Homo sapiens: one gene and its partners. The protein of the gene in region 5 interacts with the protein of the main gene of each other region in a pairwise test. Each region holds a gene or a part of one and is shown on either strand. Other genes may lie near its edges. The genes, in order: CISD2, CBS, LZTFL1, AARS2, EHHADH, HIP1 and HID1.

The links.
Region 1: the proteins of EHHADH (region 5) and CISD2 interact in binary tests that used the Homo sapiens proteins (3 or more experiments, as listed by UniProt).
Region 2: the proteins of EHHADH (region 5) and CBS interact in binary tests that used the Homo sapiens proteins (3 or more experiments, as listed by UniProt).
Region 3: the proteins of EHHADH (region 5) and LZTFL1 interact in binary tests that used the Homo sapiens proteins (3 or more experiments, as listed by UniProt).
Region 4: the proteins of EHHADH (region 5) and AARS2 interact in binary tests that used the Homo sapiens proteins (3 or more experiments, as listed by UniProt).
Region 6: the proteins of EHHADH (region 5) and HIP1 interact in binary tests that used the Homo sapiens proteins (3 or more experiments, as listed by UniProt).
Region 7: the proteins of EHHADH (region 5) and HID1 interact in binary tests that used the Homo sapiens proteins (3 or more experiments, as listed by UniProt).

Annotation. Positions count from the first base shown.
Region 1 is NC_000004.12:102,882,492-102,885,991, forward strand, and holds part of CISD2 (CDGSH iron-sulfur domain-containing protein 2), read left to right. Parts: intron 1-2,557; exon of another isoform or gene 2,558-2,724; coding exon 2,725-2,939; intron 2,940-3,500. UniProt on the Homo sapiens protein: Regulator of autophagy that contributes to antagonize BECN1-mediated cellular autophagy at the endoplasmic reticulum.
Region 2 is NC_000021.9:43,052,691-43,055,763, forward strand, and holds the end of CBS (cystathionine beta-synthase), read right to left. Parts: intron 1,294-3,073; coding exon 1,190-1,293; 3' UTR 501-1,189; downstream 1-500. UniProt on the Homo sapiens protein: Hydro-lyase catalyzing the first step of the transsulfuration pathway, where the hydroxyl group of L-serine is displaced by L-homocysteine in a beta-replacement reaction to form L-cystathionine, the precursor of L-cysteine.
Region 3 is NC_000003.12:45,828,620-45,832,119, forward strand, and holds part of LZTFL1 (leucine zipper transcription factor-like protein 1), read right to left. Parts: intron 2,520-3,500; coding exon 2,454-2,519; intron 2,372-2,453; coding exon 2,294-2,371; intron 1-2,293. UniProt on the Homo sapiens protein: Regulates ciliary localization of the BBSome complex. Together with the BBSome complex, controls SMO ciliary trafficking and contributes to the sonic hedgehog (SHH) pathway regulation. May play a role in neurite outgrowth. May have tumor suppressor function.
Region 4 is NC_000006.12:44,306,848-44,310,347, forward strand, and holds part of AARS2 (alanine--tRNA ligase, mitochondrial), read right to left. Parts: coding exon 3,452-3,500; intron 595-3,451; exon of another isoform or gene 548-594; coding exon 402-547; exon of another isoform or gene 387-401; intron 229-386; exon of another isoform or gene 185-228; coding exon 76-184; intron 1-75. UniProt on the Homo sapiens protein: Catalyzes the attachment of alanine to tRNA(Ala) in a two-step reaction: alanine is first activated by ATP to form Ala-AMP and then transferred to the acceptor end of tRNA(Ala). Also edits incorrectly charged tRNA(Ala) via its editing domain.
Region 5 is NC_000003.12:185,247,550-185,251,049, forward strand, and holds part of EHHADH (peroxisomal bifunctional enzyme), read right to left. Parts: intron 969-3,500; coding exon 865-968; intron 1-864. UniProt on the Homo sapiens protein: Peroxisomal trifunctional enzyme possessing 2-enoyl-CoA hydratase, 3-hydroxyacyl-CoA dehydrogenase, and delta 3, delta 2-enoyl-CoA isomerase activities. Catalyzes two of the four reactions of the long chain fatty acids peroxisomal beta-oxidation pathway.
Region 6 is NC_000007.14:75,546,942-75,550,441, forward strand, and holds part of HIP1 (huntingtin-interacting protein 1), read right to left. Parts: intron 2,061-3,500; coding exon 1,950-2,060; intron 873-1,949; coding exon 814-872; intron 92-813; coding exon 1-91. UniProt on the Homo sapiens protein: Plays a role in clathrin-mediated endocytosis and trafficking. Involved in regulating AMPA receptor trafficking in the central nervous system in an NMDA-dependent manner. Regulates presynaptic nerve terminal activity.
Region 7 is NC_000017.11:74,950,242-74,953,000, forward strand, and holds the end of HID1 (protein HID1), read right to left. Parts: intron 2,120-2,759; coding exon 2,028-2,119; intron 1,823-2,027; coding exon 1,664-1,822; intron 1,393-1,663; coding exon 1,329-1,392; 3' UTR 501-1,328; downstream 1-500. UniProt on the Homo sapiens protein: May play an important role in the development of cancers in a broad range of tissues.

The DNA of each region.
Region 1 (3,500 bases), on a different chromosome or scaffold from region 5:
GAAGTTGAAGCTGGAAAGGTAGCCTTGCCATTCTTTGGAGATGGCACCTTATAGAGCCAATGATCTATAGTAGCATTGTCCAGTAAAACTTTGTGGTAATGGAAATGTTCTCTGTACTGTTCAATATGGTAGTCAGTAGTCACATGTAGCTAGCTATTGAGCCTCTGAAAGGTTACCAGTGTGTCTTAGAAACAGCATTTTACATTTTACTTAATTTTAATTTATTTACATGTGAATAGCCACATGTGTTTGTTTTGTTTTGTTTTGTTTTTGAGACAGAGTCTTGCTCTTGTCACCCAGGCTGGAGTGCAATGGCATGATCTCGGCTCACTGCAACCCCTGCCTCCTGAATTCAAGCGATTCTCCTGCCTCAGCCTCCCAGGTAGCTGGAATTACAGGCGCCTGCCACCACGCCTGGATAATTTTTTGTATTTTTATTAGAGACGGGGTTTCGCCATGTTGGCCAGGCTGGTCTTGAACTCCTAACCTCGTGATCTGCCCTCCTCAGCCTCCCAAAGTGTTGGGATTATAGGCATGAGCCACCACGCCCACATGTGTATATTAACCGTGTTTTCAATTTTCTGTATTTTATTATGCTTTAATATCTTAGGAGCCTTGTTGGCTGTGGAGACAATTTAATTCCTAGAGATACTAAATAACTTGCCTGTGAGCATGCCTTTCATATGCAAACCAACCAATCCAAAGCCCATGCCCCCAACCACCTCCTTTATCTAACCCTTACACATGAAGTCAGTATTTCTCCAGTCAATATTTCTCCTGCCCTAAGTCACCCCAGGGACAGGTAGGAGACGACTAGGGACCACTACTTTTGCCCAGAACCCACTGAAATTATTCAAGCTAGCCAGTCCTGAACAGTTTCCTGCCTTGCCTTTTCCATGGAAACCACAGTAAAGGCCTGTGCCCATGCTTTTTCCCTTTCCTCTTTCTTCCTCCTGATCAACCCTAGTACCTCTCATGTGGCCCTGCATTGCATAGTGTATCCTCTCCTCTTGGGAACTATAAGTAATAAACTGTTATTTCAAGACAGTTTCTACAAGTCTGTTGGGTACAAATCTAAACAGTATGGCTAGTGGTGCCCATATTGAATAGCACAGATCTTATACCTAGGCCTCCTTCTCCCCGCAAAAACAGTTCTGTGTTATCTCCAGAGCTTTAATTCACTCAAAGAACCTATTTGGAGTGTCTCCACTTTGGTTATGAGAATGTAACAGCCAGCATGGCAGACAAAGTTCATACTTTTACAGAGTTTTATTCTGGTAACTACAAGATTATATTCCTGAAGATTTTTGCCCATATAGCATTGTCAAGTTATTTGGCAAAATATTTTTTTCAAAGGAGTTGCTAGTACTTCCTCACCAATCTCTATAATCTCTGAATAAAAGCTACCATTTATTGTGTCTTTTTTGCCAGCCACTCTTATAGGTGCTATCTATGAAAATGGTAGATAAATAGGTTTTTTCATTTAGATTTCTTTGGCATGATGTTATATCAAAAATAATTCCATTTTGGAAGAGTTCATATTGTCTTTCTTTCAATAGTTAAATAGTACTATTATCTCCTGAGAGTAGTTTTACCAAGATAGGCACAGATTTTAATTTTAGATCTATTGGGTTTGATTCATGATAACTGACAACAGGCTTTGGATTTAGGGTGTCCTGGACTAAACCTGCTTAGGCTACAGTTTTCTCACATGTAAAATGGGGATAATAATGATACCTACCACATATAGTTGTTTAAGCTAACATAGTGTTAAATGAGCTAGTGCCCTTATACTCTTAGCATAACCTGTTCATTTATCTTTAATGTTTATTAGCATGAGTTAGCATATTATTTTCTGTTTTTCTCTTTTCTCAACTAAGCTATTTCCACATAGTGCCTAGCAAGGTATCAGATTCGGCATTCAGTGAAGGAAGTTAACTGGTAATTCTATAAGAACAGAAAAGAGCCCAGCAGAGGCAGGGTGCTAGCAGACATTTGATAAATGTATGTTGAAATGTTTATCTTGGTTTCCTGGTATTTTTGTGTCCACATGCATAGGGACTGTTTCATTTGTATCACTTATATTCCCTGTCCCCTTAAGACAGGCTAGGTACTCCAAAAGGCTTTAAATGAAGTTTATGGAATTAGATATATCTTAAAATGAGAACATTCAACATAGAAGGTTTCAATTTGTTCTTTAAAATAGTAGCTTTTACACAAAATTTCAGTGTTCTTTAGCAACATTTACCAAAAATGTACCTTAAAGCATCAGAGGACATGTTCTCTCTGATATTATGAATCAGTGGTAAAAATTCTGCAGATATTCTGTTGTATGATTTTGACATAGTATTAAGGAGATAAAATGTTTTCTTAACTTATAAAATATACATTGAATTTTGTTTATAGTTATAGTGATCATAACTCCTAAAATAAAAATAGACAAACACAAATAGACTTGATGTAGACAATGAGATAGGATATTTGAAATGGAACCTATTTCTGAAAAGTTAGGTTTCTAGTTTCACTGGTCTCAAATTATAAATAAAGTAAGGTGGTCTTTGGTAGAGCTGGCTTTATTGTGTTATTTATTCACAGTTTTATGGATCCATTAAAAAGGAATTAATGTAAAAAGTAACAAAGAATAAGCTCAAGGATGAAACTAGACATGCTATTTTGAATTCTTTTCCAAGAGCACTGCAGATTCTGACACATCTACATGTTTAGTTTCAGAATGGCTTCGGTTATTGCCTTTCCTTGGTGTACTCGCACTTCTTGGCTACCTTGCAGTTCGTCCATTCCTCCCGAAGAAGAAACAACAGAAGGATAGCTTGATTAATCTTAAAATACAAAAGGAAAATCCGAAAGTAGTGAATGAAATAAACATTGAAGATTTGTGTCTTACTAAAGCAGCTTATTGTAGGTGTTGGCGTTCTAAAACGGTAAGATGTCTGTTTACGTGTACACTAAAATTTTGCAGTGCTAGGATTGTTTCGCCTCTTAAATCCCCAGTTTTGAAGTTCTTTAAGATGAGAGAATTTTCTGTAATATTTGGTATTGAAAGACCATATTCCTAAATTGAAGTTTTCATGTCATGATAGATACTACCTACATTAGAAAAGTTGGAGCAGCAAAGAAGAATAAAAATCTAATGCCTTCGCAATGTTTGGCATTTATGTAGAGTAACATGTATTTTAAAATACACATTCTTTGAGAGAGGACCTAAGGTTTAATGGAAAAAAGCTTTGGTGTCATAGTAAATAGTGGTCAAATATACTTGTCACAGTATGAGTTTGGTTGGACAAGTTACTTAATTTTTAATCTCTAATCTTCAGGGTTTGTTTTAACCTGATACATCCACATTACATATCTTTGAGAAGTGAGATGATATATGTAAACTGCTTTAATAATATGAGGTAGTAAATGATAGCCTCAATTATAGATGATTTTTAATGTGGGAAGGAGTTTGGAGTGATAAGTACTATAAGTAGTTGACAAAATCT
Region 2 (3,073 bases), on a different chromosome or scaffold from region 5:
TGGCCAACATGGTAAAACCCTGTCTCTACAAAAATACAAAAATTAGCCAGGCACAGTGGTGCACACTTGTAATCCTGGCTACTCGGGAGGCTGAGGCAGGAGAATCGCTTGAACCCAGGAGGTGGAGGTTGCAGTGAGCCGAGATTGTGCCATTGTACTCCAGCCTGGCAACAGAGCAAGACTCCATCTCAAAAAAAAAAAAAAAAAAAAATTAAACATGGAGTTACCACATTAACCAGCAATGCCACTCCTGGGTACACACCCAAGAAAAGTGAAAAGAGGTGTCCAGACATACTCGGCCATGAAGGTGCACAGCAGGTTACTCACAAGGGCTGAAAAGCAGAAACAACCAGGTGTCCATCACCGATAAATGAGGAACCAAAATGTGGTCTATCCACACAATGGCTTATTATTCGGCCACAAAAAGAAACCAAGTACACGTGCTCTGACATGCCTGAAAATACCATGCAAAGTGAAATAAGTTAGACACGAGGCCACAATTGTGTGATTCCATTTATATGAAATGTCCAGAACAGGGAAAACCTATTTTAGACAACAGAGACACAAAGTCGATCAGCAGTTGCCAGGGGAGGAGGAAGACGGGAGGGGAAATGATTGCTTCACGGGGTGATGACAGAATGTTCCAGAACGTGACAGAGGTGGTGCCTACACAACTTTCTGGATGTACTAAATGCCGCTGATTGTTCACTTTCAAGTGATTGATTTTTAGGTTATTTGAATTTCATCTCAATTAAAAAACCCAAACACGCAAACTGCTCCCGCCAGCTCAGCCCCGAGCAGACGGCGCAGCCCGTGGAGGATGCTGAGCCACCCAGGCTTCTCCCCGCCCCTTCCTGGACTCTTCTCTCTTTTGCCTTTAATCCACTCTGCGCAGTCATTGCCTGTGTTCATCCTACCTGGCCGACTTCTCTCTCAATATTTCCTTGGTGAAACATCCTAAGAGGAAGTTACATTAGAGAAAATCACATATTTCATCTCATAGGCCGTAAACAGGGCCATTTAGGAAGCCATGTGTTAACGAGGGGAGACGGATGCTCTGTGCCGTGTGCAGGGATAACGGTGCCAGGCCAGGCAGTTACCAATCACGCGTGTGTTTAGGGCTCAGGAAAGCGAAGGAGAAGTGGGCAAGGGTGGCGGGCCCGCTCCGCACCGCCCAGCGCTCCGGACTTCACTTCTGGTCCCGCTCCTGGGCGGCCACGAAGTTCAGCAAGTCAATGGCGGTGACCACCCCGAACACCATCTGCCGCTGACTGGACTTCCCGGTGCTGTGGTCTGAGGGGAGAACGAGGCAGTGGGTTTGCAGGTGCCGTGGGAGGCTGGGTGGGCTGCTGCGGGGCAGGAGGCTCCTGAGGGCCTGGGGCACCTGTGCACCATGGGGGCCCAGGGTGGCTGGAGCCCAGCGGCGAAGGCTGTGTTCCTTTTTTTTTTTCTGAGACAGGGCCTCACTCTGTCCCCTAGGCTGGAGTGCAGTGGTGCAGTCTTGGCTCACTGCAACCTCCACCTCCTGGGTTCAAGTGATTCTCGTGCCTCAGACTCCCGAGTATCTGGGACTTCAGGTGCACATCACCACACCCAGCTAATTTTTGTATTTTTAGTAGAGATGGGGTTTTGCCATGTTGGCCAGGCTGGCCTTGAACTCCTGACCTCAAGTGATCCACTTGCCTCGGCTCCCAAAGTGCTGGGATTACAGGCGTGAGCCACTGTGCCTGGCCAAGCCAGTGTTCTTCTGACATGAGCCCCATGAGCCCCCAGGCCAGGTTCTACCCACCACGTGAGTCCCCTGGGCCCCAGGCCAGGCTCCACCCACCGCAGGTCAGGACACACCCTTCCCTGGCCCACCGGCTGAGCTCCTGAGGCACTCATGACTTCAGAGCCGGTGTGGGCATGAAATTCAAACCCGCTTACAGGGCCGGGCACAGTGGCTCACACCTGTGATCCCAGCGCTGTGGGAGGCCAAGGTGGGAGGATCATTTAAGCCCGGAAGTCTGGGACCAGCCTGGGCAACATATTGAGACCCTGTCTCTACAGAATATTTTTAAAAATAAATTAGTCGAGCATGGTGGCACACGCTTGTGGTCCCAGCTACTTGGGAGACTGAGGCAGAAGGATCAGTTGAGCACAGCAGGTCGAGGCTGCAGCGAGCTATGATGGCACTACTGCACTCCAGTCGGCAACAGAGCAAGACCCTGTCTCTAAAAACAGACAAAAACCCCTTGCCACCATGGGCAGCACACAGCTTCCATCTCTGGCCTGATTCTGTCTTCACCCCTCCTGCTTTCTCCTGGCAAGCGTAGACCCGGTGTTAATGCTGGCCGAGGCTCCCATGCCACATACCCAGACAGGGCTGTTGTGATGGTTAATTTTAATACAGATTAACGGGGCCGTGGGAGCCCAGGCATTGGTCACACGTCGTTCTGGGCATGTGTGAGGGGATTCCGGATTAGCACAAGAGTCAAGAGGCAGATAACGTGTGCTACTGTGGAGGGCCTCACCCAAGCAGTTGAAGGCCTGAATAGAACCAAAGGTGGAATTTCCTGCCTTGGGGCTTGAACTGCTGGCTCTCCAGTCTCCGGCCTGCCGCCTCACCCTGCAGATCTCAGGGTTTGTCAGCCTCCGTGATCTCATGATCCAGTTCCTTAACACAGATCTCGTTCCCTCTCTCTCCCCGCTCCCCACACATCCTCTTGGTCCTGCGTCTCCACAGGACCCTACACCAGCTGTCATGAGGCACAGAGGGGTGAGCAAGGTGCGGGTGAGGAAGAGCCCTCGGAGCCCGTCCCAACTCCGCCACGGCTGTCACTCCTCTCTTTGTAGGCAGAGGTCCCTTGGGGTGGCCCACTTAGAGCCCCAGGAAAAGATAGGGAACACAGATGAGATCAGCTCCTTGCATTTTGGGGAAACGGAGGCACAGCAACTGTTGGAGAAGGGAGCCCTGGGAGCCCTGAGTGCCGCAGGCTTCTGTGGCCCTGGCAGCTCGGCCCAGAGTCAATGGACTAGGGCCAGCCAGGGGACTTTCCGACAAGGGCCAGCTGGTGGTATTTTAGGTCTTGGG
Region 3 (3,500 bases), about 140 Mb from region 5:
GAAAAATAAATGCATGCATGTAATTTCATGTTGATATTCTAAAAATAACTGTTTTAGAATGGTGATTCAACATCATAGGAGATGAAAAAAATGATGTATGTTTTGTGTGCATGCCAGCCTCCCTTGCCAGCCTAGGTAAGTGCCAGCCCCTTCAGAGTCACCAGCAGGCCAGTCCATTGTCAGCCCTGGGTACGTGGTGTCTTGCACACAGCCGACACTCAGTAGCCACTGAATTCCAAATACATAAAATATGATTTGTGAACTGCTGGTATTTCCATCCAAGATGTGTGTACCAGGGTTGAGATGGCAAACAGGTTTCATTTTGAAAAGCCAAATTTAAAAAAATCCTCAAAGAAGTTTGAATTCTTCAAAATGATAGAAAAAATGATAAAAGTAATATAATTTATACCAAAAACTTAATAGACATATGTTTTAGTCATTATTTACAAGGAAATAATATGAGAGCACAATTACTGATTACATGGTTTTCTAAATTTTTAAGATTTTAAGTTTTTTATATTCATGAGATATGTGTAATTTTTGCATACTTTGACAACTATAGCATAAGACAGGCACTGGATCTTCTCTCTTCCTGGATCTTGTTTTTGACTGGATAAGATTCATGACAGAAAAAACATTTGTACTGATAAGACAGTAAAATGGTCTACAATTGGTTAATATGTAGATGAAGAAATACTTAGTACTTTCAAGTGGCTCTCACGCCTGTAATTCCAATACTTTAGGAGGCCAAGGGAGGAGGACTACTTGAGCCCAGGAAATTGAGACCAGCCTGGGCAACAGAGCAAGACCCCGTCTCTACAAAAAATATAAAAAATTAGCCAGGCATGGTGGCACATGCCTGTGGTCCCAACCACTTGGGAGGCTGAGGTGGGAGGATCGCTTGAGCCGGTGAGGTCAAGGTTGTAGTGAGCCATGGTTGCACCACCGCACTCCAGCATGGGAAACAGAATAAGGCCCTGTCTCAAAAGAAAAAAAAAAAAAAAAAAAAAAAGTACTTTCAACAGAAGAAAAAAAAAATCTTTCCTCATTTTTGAAATCTGGTCTTTGAAAAAAAGATTTTCATTGCAACTAATAAAAGCACGTATTCACTGGTTGTTCTTGTGTCCAAAATCTTAAAGTAAAATTGGAGCAAAGCCCCAAAAAGCTTTTAAACAAATTCATCAGCCACATGTGTTTGCAATTGTTTGACTTAGGAGAAATTATAAAGCGGTTCTGGAACATTCGTGTTTTTATAAATCTATTGTCATTGGCATATAATGGTTGAAAATCATTAGCTATATAAGAAGTATCCTCCTATTTTAAAAATATCTACAGATAAAATGGTTCAACGTCTGAGATTTGCTTCAAAAAAACATGGCTGGTGGGAAGAAGAAAGTAGAGGTACAAATGAAACCAGACTGGCCATGCATTGGTAACTGCTAAATAGAGTGAAGAGTGCATGGGGGTTCATTATACTATTCTCTCTACTTTTGTGTATGTTTGAAATTTTTCATAGAGAAAAGATTAGCAAAAGCCCAGTGAAGCAGATTTTGGGTTTGTTTACCAGACATTTGCAATGAGAGTATGACCACTAGAAAAGCCAATGCTGTACTGAATATCTACCCAAATGGTCCTGCTCACAGGAAATCATACTGCAGCATGCACACTCAACAGAAAGTCCACAGGAGACAGACTGTACATACAATGACTTCCCGCAGGCGGAGTGACATTCAGTCATTACATTCAGACAAGCATGAAGAACTACAACACTGGATTTCATTGTACTCTATGGTGCCGGCGGGTACAGACGCATCTGCAGATTCATAATCATTTTGTCACACTCATCAAAGGCAAACTTAAGTAATGTTCAGTATAATAAAACCCAAATATAAACCAATTAAAAACTTTTCTTTTCATTTTCTTTCCCCTCCACTGTAATTGGATGTCAAAGTGAGAGGGGAAACTTAAAAAAAAAAAGTGAGAATATCTTGCATACCAGGAAGATTGTAGAAAAACTTAAAAAATAAATGTGAGAATATCTTGCATGCCAGGGAAACTGCAGGTGTGTGAGCTATGTACTGTCCCCTCTGCCCTAGAGGATGGACAGAGGGAAGGTCACTGGTTCTCACCAGGCCTTTTGGGGGCAAGAATGTCCCAACACATGACAATAGAGGCATTTGTCTCAGGGAGTAGCAGGGGTGGGGTACAGTGAGCAGTAACTAAGACTTAATTTTAAGTTTATAACTTCATTCTACTTAGAAAATGTGAGAAAGGTAGCTAAAACTTGTTTCACCTTTTGATTTCCTTGATCAAGCTGTAAATCTTGCAGTGCTTTTTCTAGTTTTGACTTTTCATCCAGTGCATTTGTAGCCTATAGTGAAGTTTAAACAAAACACTTTCAGTATTTAATCTGTAGGCAGTTCAATAATTGTGTCAAAACATTTCTCAGTTACCTGTATTTCAATGGTCTTCAACCTTGACTTCAATTTCTCATTCTCTTCTTGAAGTCTTAAAATTTCCTTTGTGAGTAAATTCAAATTTTATTATATTAACCAAAATATTTTAATATTTGAAATTATTACTTGTTTCACTTAAAAATCTAATTTTTAAATTTAAATTACATAATAGCTCAAAAATGTACTACTGATATTTTGGTAATATCCCAATTTCATCCAGCCTATCAGCCTCAGTATCTGTGAGTCAGCTTTGGATCTAAGACATCTAGTTTCTTTTCTTTCAGTTTCTCAGACACATCTTCCCTCTTTCAGTCCTCTGTTTTCTGTTTTCAAATTTTTTTCCAAAGACCCGCTTCCCTGCCAACTTTCTCCTAGCTGGTCCTGCAAATCCTGGGTCTATTCTCAGCCTACACTGCACACTGTTGCCCCTTATCCTGAGAACTCCTTCACTTCAGTACCATGCTCAAGCCCACAGATGCTTCTGACTGAGGTGAGGCCAAACACTTTTGTTCTTATACAGCTCAAACATTTGAATCATCTGTGTTATTTTTCAGTAGACTCAAATAAACACATCAGCCCAGTCAGAGGGCACTGCACTCTGTTTCAAGTCATGCCGCCTCCTGTCTGACCACTGCCTGTTCTGTTCTCCTGCCCAACACACTCACTTCTCTTTCCTCTACAATTTAACTGGTCTTCATCCTTCAAGGCCCAGCTTAGGTACCCCTTTACCCAAGAGCCTGTTCTCACCTACTGTTATCCACACACAACTGAGTCTTCTCTGCTACCCAGTATGACACCTGTAGCACACAGGAGAATATTCTCTGGTCTCTATTTCTAGAACATCAGTTCTACTTTCCCAATAAAACTATTACATTTTTGGCCGGGCACGGTGGCTCACACCTGTAATCCCAGCACTTTGGAAGGCCGAGGCGGGCGTATCACAAGATCAGGAGATCAAGACCAACCTGGCTAACATGGTGAAACCCCATCTCTACTAAAAATACAAAAAATTAGCCGGGCGTGGTGGCAGGCGCTACTCGGAGG
Region 4 (3,500 bases), on a different chromosome or scaffold from region 5:
CACTGTCTAGGCTCAGTGGTAGGCTCCCCAAAGTGCCCAGGGAGGCCCAGAGTGAAAAAGAAGCTCTGTCCTTACCAGTGTCTCCACCACTACAGGTACCAGGCTGCCTAGGAAGCCAGGTGGTGCCTTTAAGATCTCCATGGAGAAACGCACAGCTCGACGCAGGATCCGACGAAGAACCAGCCTAAAGGGGTTCAGAGCCCAGACATGAATCCCCAGCGGCTCATGGTCAGCAATATGGGGAGTGGGAAGGACGAGGTCCAGTGTGTGCTCCCACCTCAAAGCTCTCCCTCTCCCCATTCCTCCTACTGGCTCAACCAGACCCACCTCTCCTGTTCCCTCCCTCCTCCACCTGAGACCCCCAGCAGCCCCTGTCCTCTCTGTAGCCCTTCCAGACTCACGGGGGACCTGACATCCCAGGGAAGATGCCATCAGAGATGCAGACACTGAGTGTGCGGATGTGGTCAGCCACCACGCGGTACGCTGTGTCTGTGCGCCCCTCGTCTGCCACCCCTACTCGGCCCAAGTAAGGGGGTGCCCTGCAGCCCTGGGAAGCAGAAGAGTCAGCCAGTGGCCCTGCCTGACCTGGCCCAGGTGGGTGCTCTTTATCGCCTCTAGAGCATCTGCCCTCAGCCCTAAAGCCAACCACATCCAGAATGGCCTTGCCAGTCCAGTCCTGGGCTGAGAAGCCTCACAGATGAGCACAAGCCAGGCCCTGCCCTCACGGGGCTCATATTTGGTGCTACAAGTGAACATATCTGTGACCATTTACTGAATTTCTACTATCAGAACTGGGTGAGTACTTGAACAACATGGCCTCGAATCCCCAAAACAGCCCATTCCAGGAGGTATTAGCATGCTTGCTTTAAAGAAGAAGAAGCTGAGGCTCAGAGGAACTCAGTGACACAAGGCTACCCAGCTCTCAAGGAGCAGATCTGAGATCTCAGCCGGGCCTGTTGGACTCCAGGTGCTCTCCACTACCTGTTCTTGCCTCTCCCATCTTTTGTGGGGGTGGGCAGGGAGGGAGAGTGTAAGCTACATACACGGAAATGCTCCAAAGCAGGGAGCTTGATTCACTTACCACCAAACCTCTCTCTTCCCCAAGCTTCTTCGTCTAACAGTCATGCCATTCACTGTGTTGCTCAAGTCAATAGCCTGGGAGCCATCTTTGAATTCTTTTTCCCCTACCCGTCATGATCCATCAGTGGTTCCTTTTGCTCCTACCTCCATGACATCTCTCAAATCAATCTACTTGTCTCTACTTCCACTGCTATTATCCGAAGCATGCCCTGTGGTCCTTGCCTGGACCGATAATAGCCTCCCAACTGATTCCTAAGTTTCTGCTCTCATCTCCCTCCAGCTCATCCTCCACACAGCAACAGGAGTAGCCTTTTAAAAGTGTACATCAGGCTGGGCGCGGTGGCTCACACCTGTAATCTCAACACTTTGGGAGGCTGAGGCGGGTGGATCACCTGAGGTCAGGAGTTTGAGACCAGCCTGGCCAATCCTGGTGAAACCCCATCTGTACTAAAAATACAAAAATTAGTCAGGTGTGTTGGCGGGTGCCTGTAATCCCAGCTACTCTGGAGGCTGAGGCACGAGAATTGCTTGAGCCCCGGAGGCAGAGGTTGCAGTGAGCCGAGATCATGCCACTGCACTCCAGCCTGGACAACAGAGCAAGCAAGACTCTGTCTCAAAAAAAAAAAAGAAGGGTTCTCAGTGGGGAGTGTGGCATGATCTGATGTACACTTTTATTTATTTATTTTTTTTGAGATGAACTCTCACTCTGTTGCCCAGGTTAGAGTGCAGTAGCACGATCTCAGCTTACTGCAACCTCCACCTCCTGGGTTCAAGAGATTCTCCTGCCTCAGCCTCCCAAGTGGCTGGGACTACAGGTGTGTGCCACCATGCCTGGCTGATTTTTCTATTTTTTTAGTAGAGACAGGATTTTGCCATGTTGGCCAGGCTGGTCTCCAACTCCTGACCTCAAGCGATCCGCCCCCCTCTGCCTCCCCAAGTGCTGGGATTACAGGAGTGAGCCACCGTGCCCAGCCCTGAGAACTCTTCTCACCACTCTGAGAATCAAGGCCCCACTTTGGACTTTGAGGCCCACAAGACTGGATTCTGCCTTCTTCTCTGTGAGACTGTTCACAAAAATGGCCCTTTCCTAGGCATATGCCACTTTAAAATGGGACTTTACAGCTGTTTCCCATCAAGGGACAGAATCCATTTCTCCATCCCCTGAATCTCTGCTGGCTTTGTGACTTGCTTTGGCCCATAGAATACAGTGGAAACAACACTGTTCTGAGCCTATGTGTCTGCTCTCTGTCTTGGAACCTTGCTGAGCTGTGATGTGGACAAGCCCAGACTAGCCAGCTAGGTGATGACAGACACATGGTCCAGTCACCCCTACTGCCCCCAAACTGACAGCCAGCCAAGCCCCAGAGGAGCTGCGGCCTCTCAGCTCACCACAGATGGATGAATGAGCTCACACAAGACCAAAGAATGAGCCAGCTAAGCCCAGCCTAAACGCTAGCTCACAGACTCAGGGGGCAGATACATGGTTGTTGGTTAAGCCACAGAGCATTAGGGTGGTTATACAGCAAAAGCCAACTGACACATGTTCCTACTATATCCCATGGGATTCTCCTTTAGCTGGCTGGCCACCTTTTAGTTTTTGGCACATGTCAAGCCCTTTCTTGCGGGGCAAGGAGGGAGGGTATAAGCTACACACATGTGGAAATGCTCCAAAGCAGGGAGCTTGATTCACCTAGCTCCAAACCTCTCTCTTCCCCAAGCTTCTTCATCTCAGTAAACAGTCATGCCATTCACTGTGTTGCTCAAGCCAATAGCCTGGGAGCCATCTTTGATTTCTCTTTCCCCTCCCCATCTAATCCATCAGTACCAAGGCCCTTGGTACCTGCTGTCCCCTCTGCCTGGAAAGAACTTCCTGTAGCTGACTCCTCCTTTGGGGCTCAGCTCAAAGGTCATCTTCTTGGTGAGCCTTCCCCAAGCACCTTATCTAAGATTCCTCTGTACCCCTCCTTCTTCCTAGTTACTTTCACCCATGTTTACTGCCTGTTCACAATCTGTAAGCTATTACCTTGTTCTTTAACACATTTATTGATTGTCTATCTCTCATGCTAGCATATAATCTCCATGATCTCTTTCCTGCTTACTGCTGTGTCTTCTGTACCAAACACAAAGGATTTAACATAAAGTAAGCACTCAACACGTATTTTCTAAATAAATGAAAGAGGCAAGGAGTTAGGAGGAACATCAGGTAATAAGTAATGAATCCTAGTGTCTTGCTTGACGTCTTGGAATTCTTGGTTGGTTATTGTCCTCAGATGCTGAGAACACTCTGAGTTCTCAACAAAGATGGAATGCAATGGGGCTGAGGGCTGTGAAGAGCAGGTTAGAGGGCTTCTGGAAGGGAAGAGGCACTCACCTGCTGTATGGCGTTGAGCAGCGGGGAAAAGAGGTCAGTGTCATAGGTG
Region 5 (3,500 bases):
TTATTATTATTTAATAAATAACCTACATGGTACTGGCATATAACAGGCAAGATAAATGGTAATATTATAATGATTCACATTTTTATATTTATTTATTGCCATGATTCTAACATCTGTGTCTTTTCAGACTACCATTAACACATATTAAATTTCTCTGGCTACAGTAAGGTTGAATAGGCCCCCATATCCATGTGACTTTTGTCAAAGGGTATAATGTATGAATATTAAGGAAAAGACGCCATATATGCCATTGAATAAATCACCATTTCAGCATACTTTTGCCATATTTTGTCAATAATTTTGCATCTTCACACAATAACCCAATAAAGCAGTGCCATGGTCACTGAGATGGGTGACTATCGGAAGAAAAATGAATTCTATTATAAGACTCTGTGTGAATTAAACAATAACATTTATTGACCATCTTCTTTGTGTAGGTACTGTAGTAGAGGCTTTCAGATATGTTATCTCGCTTAATGTCACAAAAACCCCTTAAAATAGATATTATTGTTCCCACTTTATAGATAGAGAAATTGAGGTTCAGGAAGTTAAAGAGATTTGCCCAAGCCCACATATGGTGGAGATACATGCAATGCAGGTATATATCAGCAGGTGTATAACAGCCATCAAGTCTGGAACTAAATATACTCTAAAAGCCCAATCCACAATAAAAGAGACTAAGCCCTTCTCTGGGTCTCTCTTGTAATTCCTGTCCCTTTCTCCACAGTGTTACTCATTCTCACTCAAGTCTGCCATATCCATTACCTACACTAAGTTATTACCAACAAGCACAGCTAATGCAGTATTGGTCTCAGTCTGTGGCTGGATTCCAGAGATGGTGGGAGAGGGTTAGACTTGAGTTACCTGCAGAAAATTTGCCCTCTGCTCCACAAATCACAATGGCTTTTATTGTATGGTCTATTACAGCTTTCTGTAGTCCTTCTTTTATGTCACGGAGTAAAGTCGTACTAAAAGAAAACAAAATACATGAAGTAAATCAGTCAGAATTAAATTCCTACCATTCAGAGTGTTTTCCTTTCCTAAAAATGAAAAATTAAACACACACATAATGGATAAAAACTGTAGATACTTCTCAATAAAGCTTCCAACAAATAATATGTCTACTATGACTATTAAATTTCTTCTACAAATAATATATATGCCTATGATTAATTAAGCACTGACCAGATTAAATTAATCCACTTTTTAAAAATGTAATTTTCCTGCACTGTGCTTTCACTTTGACCGCTTAAAATTGACACCAACCAATTTAAAAATATTATTACATGTCTTCTATATATTGTACAAGGAGTTATCCAATACTTGTACATAATTTATCATGTAAGGCACACTAAGATATCTGAGTGCTGTAATAAAGGTACAAAGAAAAAGTGATGTTGAAGTTCAGAGAAGGGTGAAATTACTTTCAGTTTTTCATATTGTTAAAATATAAGAAAATTAAATGAGAAACAGTCTAGGAGCTGTGGCGGGGGCTGTGAGTTACCTCAAATATCCATTCCTCTCCATCGTCTTCATAGTATTAAAACACTTGGTTTTTACTTGAATATATGTGATATGGTTTGGCTCTTTTTTTTTTGAAATGGAGTCTTGCTCTGTCACCCAGGCTGGAGTGCAGTGGCGCGATCTGGGCTCACTGCAAGCTCTGCCTCCCGGGTTCACGCCATTCTCCTGACTCAGCCTCCTGAGTAGCTGGGACTACAGGCGCCCGCCACCACGTCCGGCTAATTTTTTGTATTTTTAGTAGAGACGGGGTTTCACCGTGTTAACCAGGATGTTCTCGATCTCTTGAGCTCGTGATCCACCCACCTCGGCCTCCCAAAGTGCTGGGATTACAGGTGTGAGCCACCGCGCCCAGCCTGGTTTGGCTCTTTATCCCCACCAAAACTTCATTTCAAACTGTGATCCCCACGTCAGGGAGGGACCTAGCGGGAGTTGATTGGATCATGCCAGTGGTTTCCCCCTGCTGCTGTTCTGTGAGGGAATTCTCAGGAGATCTAGTGGTTTATAAGTTGCAGTTTCCCCTGCACTCATGCCTCTCTCCTGCCACCTTGTGAAGAAGGTACTTGCTTCTCCTTTGCCTTCCACCATGATTGTAAGTTTCCCCAGGCTTCCCCAGCCATGTGGAACTGTGATCAATTAAGCCTCCTTCCTTTATAAATTACCCAGTCTCGGATATGTCTTTATAGCAGTGTGAAAATGGACTAACACAAAAATATGGTTGCCCAAAATAAAGACTATATTTTCCAGCCTGCTTTACAGTAAGGTCTGCACAAGGAACTAAGTTCTAGCCAATGGGATGGAAGCATATTTGGTATATGCAACTTTGGGGAAGAGTTCTTAAAGATTTGGGTATGCTTTTCCCTTTTTCTTTCCTCCCTATTCCTGGCACCAGTGATGGTTAGATCAGGAGCAGCCACCTTGGATCAGGAGGTAGAAGCTATGTATTGAGGATGGTAGAGCAAGAGATAGACAGAGAAAATAATTGAGGCCCCTGTTGATTGTGGAGCAGCTGTATCATTCCAGGGCACTGCTGTGAGAGAAATTAGCTTTTTATTGTCTAATTCACTATTATCTTCACTATTCTGTCAGTGACAGCCAAGCGTAATCTTAACTAAGATAAGATATAAAGGCAAGATAGTGGAAAGATAGGGCATGTAGCAGATTTTGCCAAGTTTTAATATATGAGGAAGTCATCTGCAGAAGAGATAGCTAAAACCAAGACTGAATGAGTCTACCAAAGGAAAAGAGAGCTGAGGGCAGATCCTCTGGATATATCTTCATTTAAGAAGTGGGACAAGCTCAGCAGAGTGATTCAGCAAGTGAGCTCAAAGTCACAAAGACCAAGAGAGAAAATTTGTGAAGAAGGAGGGGATTAATAAGTACCAAGCAATAAGAGAATCTAGGGCAAGTGGTGAGGAACTGCTTAAAAGGAAAAACCACAGAACCAGATTCCAATCAGTTTTGCCTTGGAATTCCAAGTATTCTGAGTAAAATCTCTGTTCTTTAGTACACAGGGTTAAAAATAAATTTTAAAACAAAACAAACAACAACAAACTTCTGTAAAGGCCATATTGTTAAGACCAACAACTATTAGTTAAAACCCCAAGAAATAAAAAGGATACTTGCCCTTATTTATAATGATTCCCTTACACCTAATTACTTTTCACCTCTTAACCTAGATGAAATCAGACAAAACCTCTTGGCTTCAGCTGGTTAATTAGAAGCCAAATCTGACCATGAAAAGCAAATTCAGAACCATTATATAACATCAAAAAGTCCAAAAGGCACACATTTCCTTCTGAATAAACAATGCTTACAAAACTAGCCAAAATTAGCTCAATCAGTGCCACTGAGGAGAAGAAACCAGCTTTTCCCATTTCAACCTATCTTCCTTTTTTATGTTCATAATTTTGCAAATATCAAAAACAGGAAAAAAATGAAAATAGCTATAACAGATACGCACTTTACTAGATTCAAGC
Region 6 (3,500 bases), on a different chromosome or scaffold from region 5:
GCCGCTCTCCACAATCTCTCTCTGGAGGTCCTTAGAGGCCACGATGAGCACCTGAATAGCTTGCATGAGGCTGGTACAGCAACCAAGGATCCTGCCAAACAAACAAGTCGAGGATACACTGAGATCAAGATCCAAGATCAATGAACACGACGGTTCTCTTCCCCACTCCTAGCCAAAGGCAAGCTTGGAATGGGAAAGGGAGGTAAGAAGGGTGCTGAGGTTGCTGGAACATTCTGCGGGGAGGCACCGAAGGAGAGGCTGGGGAGTGAGAGAGATCTAATTGTGGGTCTCCATCGTAAGGAATAGTGAAATTGTGATTCCTAGGACTTCTTTTCTTCTTTTTTGAGACAGAGTCTTGCTCTGTCGCCCAGGCTAGAGTGCAGAGGCACGATCTTGGCTCACTGCAACCTCCACCTCCCAGGTTCAAGTGATTCTCCTGCCTCAGCCTCCAAAGTAGCTGGGATTACATGCATGCACCACCACGCCTGGCTAATTTTTGTATTTTTAGTAAAGATGACTTTTCACCACATTGGGCAGGCTGGTCTCGAACTCCCGACCTCAGGTGATCCTCCCTCCTCAGCCTCCCAAAGTGCTGGGATTACAGGCGGGAGCTACCGCGCGGGTTTCTTTTCTATAGTGAAACAGCAATATTGCTGTCATCATTAATACTGTTATTGATGATTACATCAACTCAGCCCTTCCCCGTGGCTGCTACTGCTCTCCTCTAATTCCCTAATAAGTATGCAAAGTATAGACCAATGTCAGGAAGACAGATCCTGCTCCCCTAGGTCCCACCATGCCGCTCAGACCGACCTTTCATTCACCTCCAATTTGACTCCTGTGTCTCCTGCTCGGGATTTGCTGAGCATCTCCTGTGAAAAAGAAGCATGGTTTCTAAATGTGCCTTGAATATTAAGGATCCACTAATGTCTTACTATACTTTCAGTCCAACATCGTGTGGTAGCTGGGAAACCTGAATCTGGAAGTCCCCAAGTCCCTGCCCACATTCTTGAGAGAGTCAGAAAAGAATCCAGACTCTAACCTATTCAGGGGGAGTGCAGCTGCAGTGGGCTGGCTCTGTGATCCGTGTCATTTTGTTTTGTTTTGAGATGGAGTCTCACTCTGTCACCCAGGCTGGAGTGAGCGGTACGATCTCGGCTCACTGCAACCTCCGCCTCCTGGGTTCAAGTGATTCTTCTGCCTCAGCCTTCTGAGTGGCTGGGATTACAGGCACGCGCCACCACGCCCAGCTAATTTTTGTATGTTTAGTAGAGACCAGGTTTCACCATGTTGTCCAGGCTGGTCTCAAACTCCTGACCTCATGATCTGCCTGCCTCGGCCTCCCAAAGTGCTGGGAATACAGGCGTGAGCCACCACGCCTGGCCAGAACCCAGGATGTTCTGACACCAAAGTATCTGATTCTTGAGGAAACTAATCACCTTCTCTCATGAGGACCTTCTCTCATGAGGACCTTCTCATTTTCTATCACTCAGAAAAACTAGCGAGTTCAGATTTTGGTCTCTCTTTTTTTTTTTTATAATTTAAAAACATTTTTACAGACAGGGTCTCACTCTCTCACCCAGGCTAGAGTGCAGTGGTGCAATCATGGCTCACTGTAGCCTCCAATTCCTGGGCTCAAGTGATCCTCCTGCAGCCTCTGGAGTAGCTGGGACTATAAGCATGCACCACCATGCCCAGCTAATTATTTTATCTTTTGTAGAGATGGGGTCTTGCTATGATGTCCAGGCTGGTCTCAAACTCCTGGACTCAAGTGATCCTCCCAAGGTGCTGGGGTTACAGGCATGAGCCACTGTGCCTGGCAAATTCTGGTTTCTGTCTTAGGGGGTTGCCATGGCCTTAATGAACGACTGTGACATGTTTAATGAGCAGTGTTGCAGAAGGGCAGCTGCAAAGGCATCGTTTCAGGAGATCCTGCAGGAACCTCCTACCTCTATTCTGGCCGTGGCAGTTTCAATAGCAGCTGAAGTGGCCGCCATCTCCTTGTCCACCAGGTCCCCCAGCTCCTCCTGCTTGATGTCCAGTCCCCTGGGCAGGAGCTCCTGTGAACACATCACAAAGGCTGAACTGACCTTGGGGCCTCCTGTCTCTTCTCCTCTGCCATCTGTAACCCTTACAAGATGGCAAGGCAGGAGGCCACCCAGCAAACACCTTCTGCAAGCCACAGGGGTTGTGGGGGGGTCTTTTGCAGACCCCATCTTGTCCTCTCTGTGACACAAACTCTGGAACCTCATGCTCCTCCTCACTCAGGATCCACCTCCTTCCAGAATGCCATCGCTGCCTCCCCCTGCAAGGCCATTCCGCCACCACTAAGACCCCAGTCCCTTAGTTGTGCAGTGTCAATTGTACTAGCTACACAGGAGGTATTTTTTTACAATTTTTCTTTTTCTTTTGCTTTCTTTCTTTTCTTTTCTTTTTTTTTTTTTTTTGAGACAGAGTCTCAATCTGTTGCCCAGGCTGGAGTACAGTGGCACAATCTCGGCTCACTGCAGCCTCCGCCTCCCGGGCTCAAGGGATTATCCTGCCTCAGCCTCCCAAGTAGCTGGGATTGCAGGTTTGCACCACCATGCCCAGCTAATTTTTATATTTTTAGTAGAGATGGGTTTCACTATTTTGCCCAGGCTGGTCTCAAACTCCTGACCTCAGGTAATCCTCCTGCCTCAGCCTCCCAAAGTGCTGGGATTACAGGTGTAAGCCACCACACCTGGCCCTAATTTTTTATTTTTTTGAGACACAGTCTTGCCCTGTCACCAGAGATGGAGTGCAGTGGCATGATCATAGCTCACTGCAGCCTCGACCTTCCATGCTCAAGCAATTCTCCCACCTCTACCACCAGAGTATCTGGGAGTACAGAGGTGCACCACCAAGCCCGGATAATTGTTTTTTTTTTTTTTTTAATAGAGATGGGGTCTCACTATGTTGCCCAGGCTGGTCTTGAATTCCTGGGCTCAAGTGATCCTCCTGTCTTGGCTTCCCAATGTGCTGGGATTGAATTACTATACCTGGCCTACAACTTTTTCAAATACAGATGATATCTTCCACTTTGACCCTGACTTAACTTTGCTTCCACAGTGATCATATGAGGCGGGTATTATTCCTACTGTGCAGATAGGAAGCCAGGGATCAGAGGTAGAACGTCTTGACCACAGTTATGGTAACAAATGGCAGGGCAGGGATTTGAACTAAGGTCTGACAAACAGCAAAGCCTATGATTTTTAAAACATGATGTGTTATACATACTAAGGTATAAAATATATATGAATGGTTCAAAGGATAAGAATAAAGACGCATGTTATCCACCACCCAACTTAAAACTTAAGGAATGCTGTAAGAAACATCAATACCTTTGGAATCCTATTTGAACTTGTATGTGCCCTGATTCTATCTCCCTTACTCCCTGCCTTCTACCCCAAGAGACACAGAATTCAAGAGCGTGGTTGTTGTGTCTTATTTTATTTTTATTTTTTAAAGACAAAACATAA
Region 7 (2,759 bases), on a different chromosome or scaffold from region 5:
TGCAGCGGGCTCACCATGCAGGCTGTGGCCCCTGGCTGCCGGTCCCAGGCCTGGCTCATCTCCTGAGCCATCAGGTAGGGCAGGAACGGAAGAGAAAGGGCAGGTGTGGCAGGCCATCCGTCTCCCTGAGCCCAGTGCAAACAGTGGGCTCTGCCTGGGACGAGGCCAGAGAGGGCAGCCCTGGCCCTGCAGGTGAGGCTCTGCCCTCCTCCTCACCCACCCCCACCGAAGTGAGTCACTAGCAAGCATAGCCCTCCCAGCGCTGTCTCAGTGGCTGCCTGGTGAGGCCCCATGGCCTCTCCTGTGGGCTCTTTCTCTGGGCAGCAACAGCCCAGGGGCCCAAACCCTAGGTGACAGGGTCTGATCCTGCTTTCCCACCCAAGAAAATAACAAATGCTGGTTCCCAGTCATGCACTGGGGGCCCTCTGGGGTGCAGAGTCCCCAGCTCCCCTGAAGACAAGAGCCACACCTGGCCCCTCGCCTCAACCACAGAGTCAGAATGTGGAGCAGGAGGTTTTATTGTAAAGAGGCCGATTGTACAGAGCAAAGATTGTTCTGACACGGGGGGCTGGGTGGTGGGACCCAGAGGCCAGAGCTGGGTGAAGGATGAGGGGTGGCATCGCCCCATCCAGGCAGTGGGCAGGGCAGGGAGGACTAAACGGCTGCCTCCCAGTTCCCTTCCCTGCCCCTCATTACTGGGTAAGAGGGAGCCAGGCTATTTCCATGGATCCAGGAGAATATAGCAGGAGACCCTCACCACCCCACACCATGCCCCAAGGATACGGGAGGTGCCCCAGTCTGGCTTTTGCAGTCGGCCAGCTCCCAGCCTCCTCGAGGAGCAGCCTGGCCACACCTTTTTCCCCTGGAGCCTGGAACAGCTGGCTTTGGGTTAGGAGGCTGGAAGCACCCCCTTACCCTGTCCAGGCACCTCAAGGGACAGCCCGTGGTTCCCTGGTCAAACCCCTTAGGGCACAGTGACCCATTGGCTTCTGCCTCTGGGGCTGGGTAGCACAGGAGTGGGTGGGCACTGAGGGGCCAGCACTGAGCCAGGTCTTAAAGAGGGAGTCCGAGTGTTGGGGGCAGTGGTCTCTGGTGGGGGCATAGCCCCAGAGATGGGGCTCCTGTGAGTCCAGCCTAGGGGTTGAGGGGGATCTGAGCCAGTTCACATTGTCCTGGCCACAGGGGTCTCTAGGGCATGACACTCAGGGCCACTCTGCCTGTTCCAGGCCCTGATCGTGGTAATTTAAAGCTCAGAATGGTGGATGGGGGAAGCCTCAGGGACCAAGGCCCTGCCTTCCCCTAGACTGAGCCCCTCGTCGGCTTCATCCTCACACCCGCTGTATCTCAAACAGCTTCACGTCGGTGTCGTACCAGACAGGGGGGTCCACATTCCTGTGGAGGAAATGGGGGGTTACCCAGGTGCTGGGGCACCTTGCAGACAAGGCACCAGGAGGAGCTGGGCAGCAGGAATGGCCAAGCCAACCCTTTCCATCCCGATGTCCCACCCTGGGCAGCGGGTGCCACCGTCAACCAGGCAAGGCCGCCTTAGTTGACTGTCTTGACATGAAGTCCACCATAGGTGGTGGGGCCCAGAGCTGAGGTCCCTGTTGAGCCCTGCTGGGCAGGCTCTCAGGTGGACACCACCCCACTCCCCGGGGCCCACCTCAGATAGATGACGCCCCACATGTAGGTGCGGAACCACATGGCAGTGCCCGAGTTGGCCTGGTACTTGCGGATGAGGATGGGGTGGGGCACGGGCAGCAGCCCCACCAGGGTGCCATGCTGCAGGAACCGCAGGATCTCAGACTCATCCGTCAGGCCCCTGCGGGGAGAGGGGTATCTCCAGCACACTCACGTGGTCCAGGGGAGCACGGGGCTCACCCTGGCCACCCAAGACCCATGTTTCCCATCACACGCCTACCTAAGCCTAGGCTGGCCCCGCCCAGAGCCCACCTGCCCACACCACCGGCCCCGCCCACAACCCCGGCCCCGCCCACAACCCCCGGCCCTGCCGGCGCCCGACTCACTTGTCAATGCAGATCTTCTCCACCTGCGGAACCAGCACCTGCAGCAGCCTCATGATGGTCTGCAGCGGCAGCTTCGACTTCCAGGAGAGGACCTGGCGAGGGACGGGGTTCCTGGGGCTGAGAAAGCAGCCCCCGGAGGCTGCGGGGCAAGCCTGACCCTGACCCAGAACCACAGGCTCCCCAAGGCAGAAAGTACCCCTGCTCCTTGCAGCATGAGCCTGGCACCAAGCAGGACCCGGGAAGAGTTAATCCTTATTGATGGCAAGCGCCATGGCCCCGCGTTAAGCCAGAGCTGTGCCACGTGCCTCTCGGGAGACTGTGGCCTTTAGCCCTCACAACAGCGTGGTCAGGCAGGGACGGTAATTATCCCTGTCCCAGCGCAACTGGCGTGATCTCAGGAGACACAGGGCGTGGGGATGAGATTCAGGGGAGGAAGTCGGAAAGAGTGATTTATTAAGGAAGAGAGCACTGTGGGCACCTGGAGCTTAATCCTGCTGGGGACTCTGGCAACAGTGTAGACAGAGGAAGCAACCGAGCCAGAGAGGCTGAACACATGGGATGTCACCAGCCGGAAGGACCGACCCAGAGTCAGGCTTCTATGCTAGGGTCCTTTGATTCGGACATCTTGCCATCTTCACTGAGCTTCCCTGGGCCAAGGAGCCCCAACCCAGCTCCCGCCTCAGTACCATCTGCCCAAACCCCAGCCCCCGCTCGCCTGGCACAGGGTCCCTC